2 linked regions of the Homo sapiens genome follow. The protein of the gene in region 1 purifies or fractionates together with the protein of each later gene. This does not show direct contact. Each region holds a gene or a part of one and is shown on either strand. Other genes may lie near its edges.

Region 1 (7,036 bases):
TCCCTCACCTCACCCTAGTTGGTCCTGGGTGAGCCGGACACCACGGGAGGCACAACAGGAAACCACTGTGCGTGAGTCAGCATGTCTGCTCCATGTGGCAGGGACCAGCCAAGGATATGGCAGGTGTCAATAAACCATGGACCCCCCATCTCATTCCCCACCTTCAGCTCTCCTTTCCATAGGAGGTTGAGCTGGAAAGAGGCCCCTGCCCTGCCTGCCCTGGCCCAGGCCCACCCCCAGGGCAGCTGCGACTGTCCCTGTGTCTGTTGACAGTCACAGTGCTGTGGCTCTGCTGCAGAAGCATACTCTCTTGTCTTTCCAGGAGACTCACTCAGTGGCTCTTAAGGTGGCTCCTCTAAGGCAGCCTTGCTGGCTTTTGGCTCCAGGGATAGAGGCTCCATGGCTGGGCTCCATCTTGCTAAAGGGCCTCTTCCCCAGCCTCCTCCAAGTGCTCTGATGTACCACCCCCATCATCTCGCGGAGGCCATCTCCTGGTCTGTTCTTGTGTTTCCTTTCATTCCTCTGATGCCATCTCTTCTTGCATCAACTGGGATGCTCCCCCTACCCTGCCTCTTTTTTTTTTTTTTTTTTGAGTCAGGGTCTCCCTGTGTCCTAGGCTGGAGTGCAGTACTGCGATCATGGCTCACTGGAGCCTTGACCTCCTGGGTTCAAACTGGACCCCCAGCTCCAGCCCTGCTCTGGACACAGCAGAAAGAAATATTTCCCAGCCCCGTCTTGTTATTCCTATCCACCTGGGACCTGCTTGGAAGCTTGGAATGTGCCTTCCCTGCCCCAGTCCATGCTAAATGTTCTGGCCCCTTCCATCTCCAACATCTCCCTTGGACTGGACCTGAGCTCAGCACAGCCTTCTCTGACCCCTGCTCATGTGGTGACACGTTCGAGCCTGGCCTTTGTTCTGGAGGCAGTGGAGGGGCAGCCGAGTGTGGCAGCACTGACGATGCTGGTTAGACGTAAGGAAGCCTAGGACCCAGGGTGTCTTGGGCACAAATTTGCTGTGACACCCTGGGCAAAACCTTTCCCTCTGAGCCTCACTTTCCCCATAGCAGCTCAAGGGAGCTGGTTTTCTCAGTCCCTTCCAGCTCTAACATGAATAGAAATCTGTGGTCTGGAGCATTTTGCACGCGCTCAGCAAAACTGTGATGTCATGGAGCACACACCCACAGACTTTTCTGCTCACAGGAGGATTGTAGATGCTCTGTGGAGCACCTAAATCACAGCAGGGACAGTCTGTGAGGCGCCAAGAGAGAGTCCTCCCCACAGCCTCCATGTTACTGATCATGGCATTCCAGCAATTAACAGGGTCAGGGGGCAGTCCACTAGCCACCAGCCCTGCCCTGAGAATGCGCAAACCTGAGACCAAGGCTCCTGCCCCCAGCCCAGAGCAGGCAGACTTACATCTTCTCAAACTAGACAGTCTAGTATTGATTCTTCTCCCCGCTTAATCCATGGGAAGGAATTCCCAGACTTTCCCACCAGTTGCAGAGCAGCTTTACAATAATTTGATCCAAACTGATCATCTCCTGGTTTTATATCCTGTGGCATATCCCTTGATCCCAGGTTTTGCTGACACCACAGCAAGGGATTGGAGGGCGTGTGTGTACACGCGTGCGTGTGTGTGTGTATGCATGTACCTGTATGTGTGTGCACATGCATGTGTGTGCGTGTGTGTGTGCGCGCGTGTGTGTAGATACCCACATCTGGAGAAACAGAACCAGAGAAACTCTGTCCACAGCTGAGGGAAGAAGTCACATTTCCTGGCAAAGAATGTGTTCATGGAGGGTAAATTTCGAGGTCAGGCTCAGCTCTGTCATGGACAGCCTGGGGGCTCTGGACAAGTGTGCAGCCTCCCAGGGCCTCGCTTTCTTCTGTGGGGAGGCACTCACAAGGCGCTCCAGTGAGAGGGGCCATGGGTATCCCTCTCCCCTGACAGTCCTTCCCTCCGGAGCTGGATCCGAGCATTGGGTCCCAGGACCTCATCACTATCCTCTGTCTCCCCATAGATTCCTCTTCTCCTGTAAATGACCACAGAGGAAGACAATGAATGAGGTGAAAGAATCCCTTCGCAGCATCGAGCAGAAGTACAAGCTCTTCCAGCAGCAGCAGCTCACCTTCACCGCCGCTCTGGAGCACTGCAGGGAGAACGCCCACGACAAGATCCGGCCCATCTCCAGCATTGGACAGGTGGGGCTCCCGACCCCCACCCCGGCCGAGGGGCAACAAGCCCAGTCCCCTCTCACAAAAGATGAAACCACTGGGGCCCAGAGAGGGGAAGGACGTTTGCGCCAGAATTAGGACCCGGACCCAGAACCTAAATGATGTAATGAGTCCTTCATTCGTTTCTCTACCAAATATGTAAGTGAATAACAACAAGTGAATAAAGAGGCAGGTTTAAAACTCAGCCGGCCAGGGCTTAAGTCCTAGCTCTACCATGTGCCACTGCTGTGATCTCAGGCCAATGACTTCACCTTTCTGTGCCTCAGTGTCCTCATCTGTGACGCAGGTTCAGTGGTCACCCATAGAAAACCAGGGATTTACTGGTGACCAGAGGGATCCTGTCCTTCCCATCAGATTCCACTGGGGGTTGAGGAACTGTGGGATGCCAAGCACACCGCCAGGTGCTTTCGCAGATGTTTTTATTTAACCTGCATCTCCTCCAGGGTTAGCTGCTGTCCAGGTTTGCTGTGCAGGACTTGGAGGCCTCAAGACCAAATGATCCTTCCAGGATGTTAGGGGCTGGAGCTGCAGTGCAGTTAGGAACACACACAGGCCGGCCCTTCACAGCTTGGAGGGAGTCAGCTTGTGGAAGGGTAACTGCCCCAAGATGGGTGGGAACAGGCGCAGGGCTCAGAACTGCAGAGGAGAAACAGGCTCGGGAGGAACAAGCAACCCTTGCTGGCAGCATCCTTTAAAAACATTTTTTTCTGGCCAGGCGTGGTGGCTCATGCCTGTAATCCCAGCACTTTGGGAGGCCGAGGCAGGTGGATCATGAGGTCAGGAGTTTGAGACCAGCCTGACCAACATGGTGAAACCCTGTCTCTACTAAAAATACAAAAATAGCTGGGCGTGGTGGTGCGCATCTGTAATCCCAGCTACTCGGGAGGCTGAGGCAGGAGAATTGCTTGAATCTGGGAGGTGGAGGTTGCAGTGAGCCGATATTGCGCCACTGTACTCCAGCCTGGGCGACAGAGTGAGACTCCGTCTCAAAAACAAAACAAAACAAAACAAAAACAAAAACAAAAAAATGAAAAAAAACACTTTTTTTTTCTAATTTTGGTAAAATGTTTCCTCAATTTTTTAACTCAAAAAAATGTTAAATATAGAGGCCAGACACAGCGGCTCATGCCGGTAATCCCAGCACTTTGAGAGGCCGAGGTGAGTGGATCACCTGAGGCCAGGAGTGGAGACCAGCCTGGCCAACATGGTGAAACCCCATCTTTACTAAAAATCCCAAAATTAGCCAGTTGTGGTGGTACGCGCCTGTAGTCCCAGTGACTCGGGAGGCTGAGGCATGAGAATCACATGAACCCTGGAGGCAGAAGCTGCAGTGAGCCGAGATCGCACCACTGCACTCCAGCCTGGGTGACACAGCAAGACCCTGTCTCAAAAAAAAAAAAAAAAAAAAAAAGTTAAATGTACAGAAAAGGAGCACCCATATAACCCTCACCCAGATTCACCGACTTGTGACATTTAGCCAATTTAGCCATATTTGCCCACGCATGCAGCCCCTGAGCTATTGGAAAATAAACTTCCTCTTCTGTAAACCTGGACTTCGGGGGAAAAAAGAAAAGAAACTGCCTACATCCTTTTTAGTCCATCCTCCAGAAGCTTCAAAAGTCAACAAGTGTCCCTTCCCAGAATCTACATCCATGCATAAGGGAGTGGCCTTCTTGCCTTAGGTTCAGCCGAAGGCTCTTGGTAAACAGTGGCCTTGTGTTCTGAGTTGCCTCACCCCTCCCCTGCCCTCCCTGAACCAGAAGTGTCCAAAGGTTCCCTGCACACCGCCCCCCACCCCCGCAATGCTCTGTTGTAGTTACACCATGGGGCAGGTTCCTCCTCCTCGACCCCTACAGGTGCCTTTGTGGGTATGAGTGTGAAGAGCCTCTCCCCCTTACGAAGCTGCTTGTGCATGGCAGTCCTTGGGAAGGAACCACTTCAGATTGTTTGGGGAAACATCCCCTAGCAACAAAAAGACAAACGGTTACAGCAAGAAAACCCTGATTTAGATGTAGACCTTTGTGGGTGCTGGAGGAGGTGATACCTGCATCTGTCATCAGATTGTGGAGAGTAGAACCATCTGACTACGAAATGGGTCTGTTCATCTGGCCTGGACCACAGCCAATTCCTCCCTAGCTCGAGATCAGACCTCCGGCTCTGGCCCAACCTCAGATGCAGTCACTGGGTAACCCCATAAGCTCCACTTACTGGCCTGCCCCTCCTTCTCCACCTTGTGAACACAGTACGGCTGAAGCCCAAAGGATTCCAGTCCCTGCTGTTTCCCTCTCAGTATGGGTGGCCCACGCTGGAATTTCTCACAATGAACCCTCTAGAAGTGGGATGACAGGCACTGTGGCATTAAGTCAGGGGGCAGCCCCCTTTTGCTTTAGGCGGTGGTTGGTTCAGGTGGCAGGGGACAGGTGAGGGGTAGGGCACGGAGCCACTGAGCTGGGGACACCCAACTAAGCCACTGGTGCCCTGGGCGGGTTATTTCACCTCTGCAAACCTCCAGTGTTCATGTCATGGTACTGATCTGTAAAATGGGAATTTAAAAAGGTACCTGCTCAGTGTGTAGGGTTTAGATGAAGACAGGCGAGAGCAGGCCCGTAAAGCATTTTGCATGGTGCCTGGAACACTTGATTTTATATCCATCTATCTATCTACCCATCCATCCGTCCATTTAATTTAATTAATTTTTTGTTTTTGAGATGGCATCTTGCTCTGTTACCCAGGCTGGAGTGCAGTGGCATGATCTCGGCTCACTGCAGCCTCCTCCTCCCGGGTTCAAGTGGTTTTCCTGCCTCAGCCTCCCGAGTAGCTGGGATTACAGGCACGTGCCACCACGCCTGGCTAATTTTTTTTTTCCTAGTAGAGATGGGGTTTCACCATGTTGACCAGGCTGGTCTCGAACTCCTGACCTCAAGTGATCCCCGCCCACCTCAGCCTCCCAAAGTGCGGGGATTACACGTGTGAGCCACTGTGCCCAACCGATCCATTAATTTCATATCATATCTATCCATCCATCCATCCATCCATCCATCCATCCATCCATCCATCTATAGAGAGAGAGATACCACTATATAGAGTGGTCTGTACCTTAAAATGCTTAAGCGTTACTTGCGTCTCCCCCATGAGTCATGTAGGGTGGGAGGGAGTAGGGTGGGTGCTTCTGGACATTTGCACCATAAGCCAGCCAGGACCCGGGTTGGCATGTCCCCAGCTCATGTGGCGGCGGCCCTTGCAGGTGCAGAGCTACATGGAACACTACTGCAACAGCTCCACAGACCGGCGGGTTCTGCTCATGTTCCTGGACATCTGTTCAGAGCTGAATAAGCTCTGCCAGCACTTTGAGGCCGTGCACTCTGGCACCCCAGTCACCAACAACCTCCTGGAGAAATGCAAAACCCTCGTTAGCCAAAGCAACGACTTAAGCAGCCTCAGAGCAAAGTAAGTCCCTCTGATGCTGCTCTTGAGGCCCCGTGTGTGCCTGTGGGGAGGCCTCTGTCCTGCTTCTTTCCTGTTGCCTGGATCATGGTGCTCCTATTAGACCACCCCGGGCAGGAAATCCCAGTCTCCACTCATTTATTGGAATGACTCGGATTCAACAAAACCTTTTCTTTACAACCATCGTAGACATGGCAGGACACCAGGTGTCTCACGGGTGTTAGCACCAGGCAGGTGGAGAAGGGGGTGTAGAGCCCAGAGCAGTTGCCCCCAGAAGCCCACAGAGATCCTCACTGACATGCAAAGAAGTGGACACCAGAGCCGCCTCCCAGGGGCAGCAGCACTGGCACTGAGGGCTCCTCATCCTGACAGCCCGGGAGCCTGCAGCACAGTGGGCCAGAGCCTGGGGAAGCTCTGTAGATACCAGGGTGAGAAGAGCCAGAGGGATGAGCCAGCCAGTTCCTCACCCCTAACCCAGGTTTCTACGGACCATGGGGCAGTGGTTTGCATCTCCTGTCTTTCACACCAGAATTACCTGGGGCTTGTGGCACCCCAGGCCTGGTCTGCCAGAATCTCTGGGGACAGAGCGCCTCAGCGTGCTGTGTGTCCAGTTCTAAAGCCTCCCCAGGTGACTCTGCTGTGCCTGAGGTGTGGCAGCTGCTTGCCACGGCATGGCAAGTCCCGGGAGCATGGGTTCACCTGGCCCCCTGCCGTCCTGCAGATACCCTCATGATGTGGTGAACCACCTCAGCTGTGACGAGGCCCGGAACCACTACGGCGGCGTGGTCAGCCTCATCCCCCTCATCCTAGACTTAATGAAAGAATGGATCGCCCACTCCGAGAAGTTGCCGCGCAAGGTGCTGCAGCACGTGAGTGAGCCCCAGGCGCACCAGGAGAGCACCAGGGGAGCCGCTCGTCCTGCCCAGGCCATAGGGACCCAGCCCAGGGCCACTAAACACAAGTGTAGACAGCTCACAAAAGCCAGCCTCAAACCCAGGGGATGTTCAAAACCACCCTGGAGGCCTCCTGGTGGGAAATTGTAACTCAGAGCCAGGAGCTCCGTCGGCGGAGAGCTTTGCTGTTTAATTTGGATTTTACTGGTTGGTCCTTTTTTCACTGGTACCCATGGACCCTGCCACTTACTAACCCCAAGGGAATCAGCCAATATATTACTGAGACTTCCTCTCTCTCTTCTTGCTTTAACTTCTTTTTTTTTTGAGACGGAGTCTCGCTCTGTCGCCCAGGCTGGAGTGCGGTGGCGCAACCTCGGCTCACTGCAACCTCCGCCTCCCAGGTTCACGCCATTCTCCTGCCTCAGCCTCCCAAGTAGCTGGGACTACAGGCGCCCACCACCTCG
Region 2 (7,036 bases), on another chromosome or scaffold:
GACTACCTCTTGTAGTTGCAGAGAGAAGATGAGCTGCCCTCAAGATTCCCTCTTTTCTCCATAGGTAGCTGCTACATGGAATATTTTGGCCTGAGTGGGATTGGGAAGGAGGCAGCTCAGGGCAGGAGTAATTTGGGGAGAATGTTTTGGTCCACCCACTTGGAATAGGGTAGAGGAGGCTCAGCTGCCCAAGAAAATGATGAATTTTTGATTACATCTTATTTTTCAGTTGAAATAGGGATTGTATAGTTTTTCAATTCATCCCAACATTCATTGAGCCTGTGTTGAGTGCTAGGTGCTTTGCTAGGGTAGGCTCTGGGAAAGACAAGATGGTAAGATACAGACCCTGCGCCTAGAAGTACTCAAAAATTATCAGGAAGTGGGGGACTGGCGGATAAAATCATATAATCCAATCACATGCCCATCATTGCCCTAAGAGCTTGGAAGCAGCATCTCTAATCCTCAAAATAATCCTGTAAGGTTTGGGGCTATTAAACTTCATTTTACAGATAAAGAAACTGAGGCTTTGGGCAGGTAAATTGCCAGATCATCAGCCAGTAAGTGGCTGTGTCTGTGTGACTCTAAATTCAAGCTCCTACTCTTAACCACTGAAGCATGCAAGAGGGAGGAAGCAGGCGTCCCAGGCACAGGATGTTACCTTCCTTGATCCCTGCATCAGGGCAGGGTAGTCTCAGGTGAGTCTAGTCTCAGCTTGAGAATGAAAAGATAGTGACTTCAGGCACCGAGAGCCTCTCGTGGATCATGGTTAACAGTGACAGGCTCACGGACACAGAGAAGCTAGACTAGCTGCACACGACATGAGCCCAGCATATAGACTGTGCCTTGAGGTTGTGGTTTCTAGAATGGAGAACTGAGACTCAAAGCCCATATTTATCTCCCTGAAATGAAGAGGACTGAGAAGGAATACTTATTAACTTCTCTACCCTTTCCTATTCCTTCCTTTAGCCGGGTGATTTGTTGTACTTTCCCAGAGGAACCATTCATCAAGCGGACACTCCTGCGGGGCTGGCCCACTCTACTCACGTGACCATCAGCACCTACCAGAACAAGTAAACACTGCCTCCCAGCTGCACATGCTAGGACAGCTCTGAGTCCTGGCCTGCAGCAGCCACATTCAGGAGGGATATGAGGGAGTTGGCCCCTACCTCCTATGCAAACCCCAGGGTTTATGTCCTTTACTGACTTCCACATTCCTTTGATGTCCCATGTATGTGACTGGTCCCTCTGGACTTGCTTCTGGGGACATCATGAACCTGACTCTGTAGGATGTGGGGCATTGCCCAAATAGAGAGTCACATAGTTTGGAAAGAAAGAGACTAGCTGTGGGTACATCAGTGTGTTAGTGATGCCAGGCTGGGCTCATACTCTCTCTCTTTTTTTTTAATATGATAAAATATATAGAACATAAAATATACCATTTTAAACCATTTTAAAGCATAGTTTGACATTAATTACATTCACACTCTTGTGCAGCCATCACCACTATTCGTTTCTAAAACATGTTTATTCCAACAGAAACTCTGTACCCATTGAAATCTCTTGGTCTCTTTGAGGGTTTCTCTTTTTACAGTCCATGAAGTTAAAGTAGGACAGGCAGTCTGGAACAGCAGGAACTAAAGTGCATGTGCTGACAGCAGTTCCAATTAAAATCATGTTCATTTCAGCTAGTACCTCCTCACTGGGTGGCAGTGCTGTGTGAGTTATATCCAAAAAGCAGCAACCTTGCTGGTCCAAATCATATTTAAAAATACTAATCATGGCCAGGCGTGGTGGCTCACTCCTGTAATCCCAGCACTTTGGGAGGCTGAGGCGGGTGGATCGCTTGAGGTCAGAAGTTTGAGACCAGCCTGGCCAACATGGTGAAACCCCATCTCTACTAAAAAAAATACAAATATTAGCCAGGTGTGGTGGTGTGCACCTGTAATCCCAGCTACTCTGGAGGTTGAGGCAGGAGAATCACTTGAACACAGGAGGTGGAGGTTGCAGTGATCCAAATCACGCCACTGCACTCCAGCCTGGGCGACAGAGCGAGACCCTGTCTCAGGAAAAAAAAAAAAATACTAGTCATGAGTTAATGTGTTAAACAAATATGTACTAGACATTGTGTTTGTTGCTGGGAATTCAAGGATTTTATCGAAGGGGTTTTGAGAGAGCTTATACTTTGGAATTGGTTGTAGGAGAAGAGATGGTGTGATAAATTCTATTGTAGGTTTGCAGAGGAGACTCTTGGAGCATAGAGGAATGCATTTAGCTAAGTAGGGGCATTAGAGAAGCCTTCAGAAATGACACCAATGCTGAGTGAGTCTTAAAGGATGAGTAAGTAGGGGTGGGTCAGCAGATCAGAGTAGGAGAGGACATTCTAGGTCCAAGGGACGGCAAGTCACCTCCTACCTTCAGGGCCAGAACTTGCAAAACAAGTTAGTAAGCATACCTCTGCTTCCTCATCAGACTTTTCAGTGTGAATTTCACCTCTACATTTAAAAGACTTACTGGAGGAATTAGCTGAGGCCTGGCCCTAGTTTAGTGCTATCTTTCCCACAAGTAGAAGGCCCAAGTTTGTATTAGGCTTCCATTTTGAAAAATGCCCTCATCACTTTGGCTAGGTAGGTTCCTTGCATTTTAAGGGACAGAAAGTCACCAAAGCCAGCTCAAGAAGTGCAGGGTCACTTGAGGGAGTGAGTCCTAGAAACTCCAGGCTACAGAGAGGCTGGAATTAGAAGTCCATTCTGGATTCAGAGCAGTTCTGGACCACATAGTTTGGCCCTTTGAATATCCGTGCATCTGTGGGTGTCCCATCGTTAATGTTTCTCAGGTACTCCCTTTCTGTAATTCTCTTTTCCATTTCTCTTGCTGCTACCAACTGGTTTTCTAGTGACTGGTGTTTTCTCCCTTCTGTTCCTTCTTCAGCTTCTGTTTACTCATAACATTAGGCCATCACCAGTTGCTACTCTGACCTCCATCTCATTGACCCTGTTAGCTTTTGCTTCTGCTAAGGACCTGACTCACTCTCTGTTTCCCAATCCCAAGAGTGAGGAACTGGCCGGCTGCCCCTGGGTCCTATTCATTTCTTCTCTTTTCAGCTGGGGCTGGGAAGAGCTTCCTAAGTTACAGAAGTTGCCTGCTTAGGATTGTGGGTGGGTACCATGATCAATGTGTCCAGGCTGGATTTTGACCTGTGTCTTGGACAGTGATGCTGGAGCTAGAATGAGAAGATGTGACTTGAGGGCCATTGCTCCCCAGAAATGATCCTGTGTTTTGAGCCTAATGCTCCTTCAGGTACCATGTAAAGGTGAATATTTGGGGCCTCTTCCTAACACCTGTCAAGGTAGCATTGTTGGAGTGTTTGGGGGTCTGCTGTATGTTGTTGATTTGGTTGTTTTACCAAAGTGGACCCTTCAAGAGATATTCCTAAATTGTGGGAAGTCCCAATATCTATTCTGACTCTTAGAGGAGCACTATTTAACTTCTACTAAATTCCTCCATGAGCTGTTGCTGTATGACTTCCACCTACATAAACCTGCAAAGGAAGCACATATTGTATGGTGCTGAGAGATCTGCATGTGCCCTCCGGGTTGAGACTCAATTAAAGATGCAGGGTTGGATATAACATTAAGTCACAAAGCAGTGAGGCCGCCAGGTAGTAGATGTCTTGGGAAAAGTGTCTCTCATGTGGCTTTTGTCCTCCTTTGCAACTTTTCTGGGAGGGAAGCATAACAGTGTTAATTTTGCTTACTGAGTGAGAAGTAAAAGTCATACTGTGAATTTCCATTTTCTACTAGCCGGCAATTTGAAATCTGCTGGTGACACAGGAAAATTTTAAATAGCTAAGAAATGTTTAAAGAGAGCATCCCCACAGAGTGCATTTCTTACACCGGCACGCACTTAGGAATGAGCCAATTCCAGATACCCCAGAGAAAGCAAAGGTAATTGAATAGGGATATTTGTCCCTAGATGTTATTTTTAGTCACTGGCTTCTATCCCCCGGTAAAACCACTGCTAGACATAATTGTTTTGGAATTATTGATGGTAGATATTTTCTTTAGGAGTAGCATCCCTTGTAAGTGACAAGGAAAATGTAACATACAACTGTTCAAATAATTACACAATCCAGATATCTTGCTGTTACCCCAAATTTGTTGTATTTATTGCACATAAAATTTGGTTTTAGATCCTATAATGACTGTTTAAATTTCCTACAAATCTCCCCTCATAGACACTTTTGTTAAAAATTTGGTCCATTGAACTTCCTGTTTTATGAAAGTCTATGGTTAATTTTCTGAGAGCTTTTAAGAGAAATCAGTATTGAAGCCTAGCTTCCCACTTTTAACTTTGCAAGTGAGTGTCTGGAACGGGGAGGGAGGAAACAGGGTGGTTGATGAAGGTCTTAGATTTCCATGCTGAGTAATGTCCAATTAATGGAACTCAAAATGCCTGGACAGGGAAGCCATAATCCAATTTGTAGCTTTTGGCTTTACTAGCAATAAGTATTTTATGTATATTTCGTATGCACTCACTGTTTTGGTTTTTTTTTCCCCCTTGGTGCATATCCTAGTTCATGGGGAGATTTCCTTTTGGATACCATCTCGGGGCTTGTATTTGATACTGCAAAGGAAGACGTGGAGTTACGGACCGGCATACCCCGGCAGCTGCTCCTGGTAAGGAGTAAAGGCAGGTAGGAATGAAGGATGGTAGCTGCAGCCCAGGCCAGCTGAAGTCCTACCTTAAGGACCCCAGGATACTTCTTCCAACATGAGCCAGGCTTGTCTACTGTGCTGCACTGCTGAGCTGTGTGACTTGCAGAATGAGTGGAGTGCCATGTGTTATGTGGTGATCCAAAGAACTGTGATGTTGTACAGACAGCTCTGTATTTCACAGTGGCAGTAGCAGGCAGTGTGAAAATGTTGGTTGAGTAAATGAATAGTACGGCCAGGAGAACTGTAGATTTAGCACACATCAGATTACTAGTTAAGAGAAACTCACTGTACTGGAGATCCTGGCCTCGGTGTATTCGTTGGCCTCCTGTTCTTTTATTACATTTTGAAACAGGAGTGTTATTTGATTAGTTTTGAGATGAGTGGATTAGAGCTGAGTTGAGCAAAGGTTGCTTTCTCTGAAGCATTCATCTTAGGACAGTGACCTGCTTTCCAAAAGGCAGAGCTCAGACTGTACCATATTTCCAAGGATCTCTATTTCTAGGCAAAATTCTGAAAATTTTTTGCAAACAATAGGCAGCTTAGAATTAACAGTGTTTATAAGGAAATGATGAGATATCATTCTTAGGGGCTCAGGTTGTCCCTTCCCCTTTGGAATGACATGGATTAATGTCTATACCCGGTGGCTGGCAGTTTTGCAGTCTACTGTGGAGACTGAGCTGGGCAGTAAGTTCTGCTGGCATCTGGGCCAGGACTCACTTCTGTGTTCCTAGCAGGTGGAATCCACAACTGTTGCTACAAGACGATTAAGTGGCTTCCTGAGGACACTTGCAGACCGGCTGGAGGGCACCAAAGAACTGCTTTCCTCAGACATGAAGAAGGATTTTATTATGCACAGACTCCCCCCTTACTCTGCGGGAGATGGGGCAGAGCTGTCAACACCAGGTGGAGCTTGCTGTTTTCTTCTGGGTGGTCAGAGGCTAATGCAGGATGTTTACGGTTTTTCTGGGTAGGCTCCTTTTTGAACAGATGGAAAGTATGAAGTGCTTTCGTGTTAATGTGGACCACATCCATCCTTAGTGAATATGGGCAGACGAGATGTGCTGCACTCAACCTTTAGCAACCTGTATCTTAGAAGTCATTTGGAAAGAACTTGTATCCCACCCTGATGGGAAATAAGAGCCCTGTCCTTTTGGGTGAGAAATATGTATATTTATAGGTACTCTGGTATTCATAGTCTTCAGGAAGTTTTCAAAATTTGAACATTGAAATAATCTTGTTGGAATTAAGTCAGGGTTGGGTTGTCTTTATTTGTGTTGCTTAAAGGAATACCTGAGGCTGGGTAATTTATATAGAAAAGAAGTTTATTTGGCTCATGGTCTGCAGGCTGTACAAGAAGCATGGTGCTGGTATCTGCATTTGGAGAAAACCTCAGGCTACTCACAGTGGAAGGGGAAAGGGAGCTGGCATTTGCAGAACACATGGTGAGAGAGGAAGCAAGAGCGAGGAGAAGTGCCAGGCTCTTTTTAACACCAGCTGTCATGGGAACTAATGGAACAAGAAGTCACTCACCGCCCCCAACCCCAGGGAATTATCTATTCATGAGGGATCTGCTCCCCACAATGTGACCCAAACACCTCCCCTTAGGCTGCACCTCCACACTGGGGATCAAATTTGAACATGAGATTTGGATGGGACAAACATCCAAATCATAGCATGGGTAAAATTGTTACCATCAGCCAGTGAGATTCAAGAAATGTCCAAGATTATCATCAACCTTCTCCAAGGCACAGGTGCCTAATTTATGACAGATTTAGGCTGCAAATGATATAACATACTTTTGGATGGATGATGTCATTGATGACTTCCAGATGGATGATGTCAGTATCCTATAGCAAAGACCACCAAGAACATACTCCTGAATTCAGACGAAATTGGATTTATTGACTTGTTGCAGTGGGAAGACCACACACCATTGAGAACTGCAGGGCATCTCAGTAAAACGGTGTTAGAAAAGACTTATAGGACTCAGGTGTATGTTAGGTGATTTTGGAGAGGGTTCAAGGAAGCAGGGCTTTGCTCTGGATTGGATGCTGTCAGGAAATGGAAGGGATTCTATGATTAAGTCTCCTAAATGTTATCTGGTAGGCAGGAGGAATGTATGAGGCTGAAGTTATCAATGGTAAAGCGGAAGTGGTCACTCATTAGCCAGAGTAGGGGGATGTTCGGTCAGTGTTGTGGTTTGGAATATGTTCTTGCCTTGCCTGAGTCCAGACATGAGTATGTACGGAGTGGTGGTGTTTTGTTTTGACCTATCATGGTGACAGTGATCTCTGATGTTAGCATTCTGTGGAATTGCCTGT

The links.
Region 2: the proteins of SPACA9 (region 1) and RIOX2 purify together in Homo sapiens (affinity purification with mass spectrometry; 3 studies listed by BioGRID and IntAct, with this or other methods). This does not show direct contact.

What each region holds. Positions count from the first base shown.
Region 1 is NC_000009.12:132,881,890-132,888,925, forward strand, and holds part of SPACA9 (sperm acrosome-associated protein 9), read left to right. Parts: intron 1-2,021; 5' UTR 2,022-2,058; coding exon 2,059-2,202; intron 2,203-5,479; coding exon 5,480-5,682; intron 5,683-6,400; coding exon 6,401-6,722; 3' UTR 6,723-7,036. UniProt on the Homo sapiens protein: Microtubule inner protein (MIP) part of the dynein-decorated doublet microtubules (DMTs) of multiciliated respiratory cells and the distal singlet microtubules of monoflagellated spermatozoa.
Region 2 is NC_000003.12:97,948,426-97,955,461, reverse strand, and holds part of RIOX2 (ribosomal oxygenase 2), read left to right. Parts: intron 1-966; coding exon 967-1,070; intron 1,071-3,209; coding exon of another isoform or gene 3,210-3,267; exon of another isoform or gene 3,268-3,310; intron 3,311-3,320; exon of another isoform or gene 3,321-3,852; coding exon of another isoform or gene 3,853-3,944; intron 3,945-4,573; coding exon 4,574-4,676; intron 4,677-5,446; coding exon 5,447-5,618; intron 5,619-7,036. UniProt on the Homo sapiens protein: Oxygenase that can act as both a histone lysine demethylase and a ribosomal histidine hydroxylase. Is involved in the demethylation of trimethylated 'Lys-9' on histone H3 (H3K9me3), leading to an increase in ribosomal RNA expression.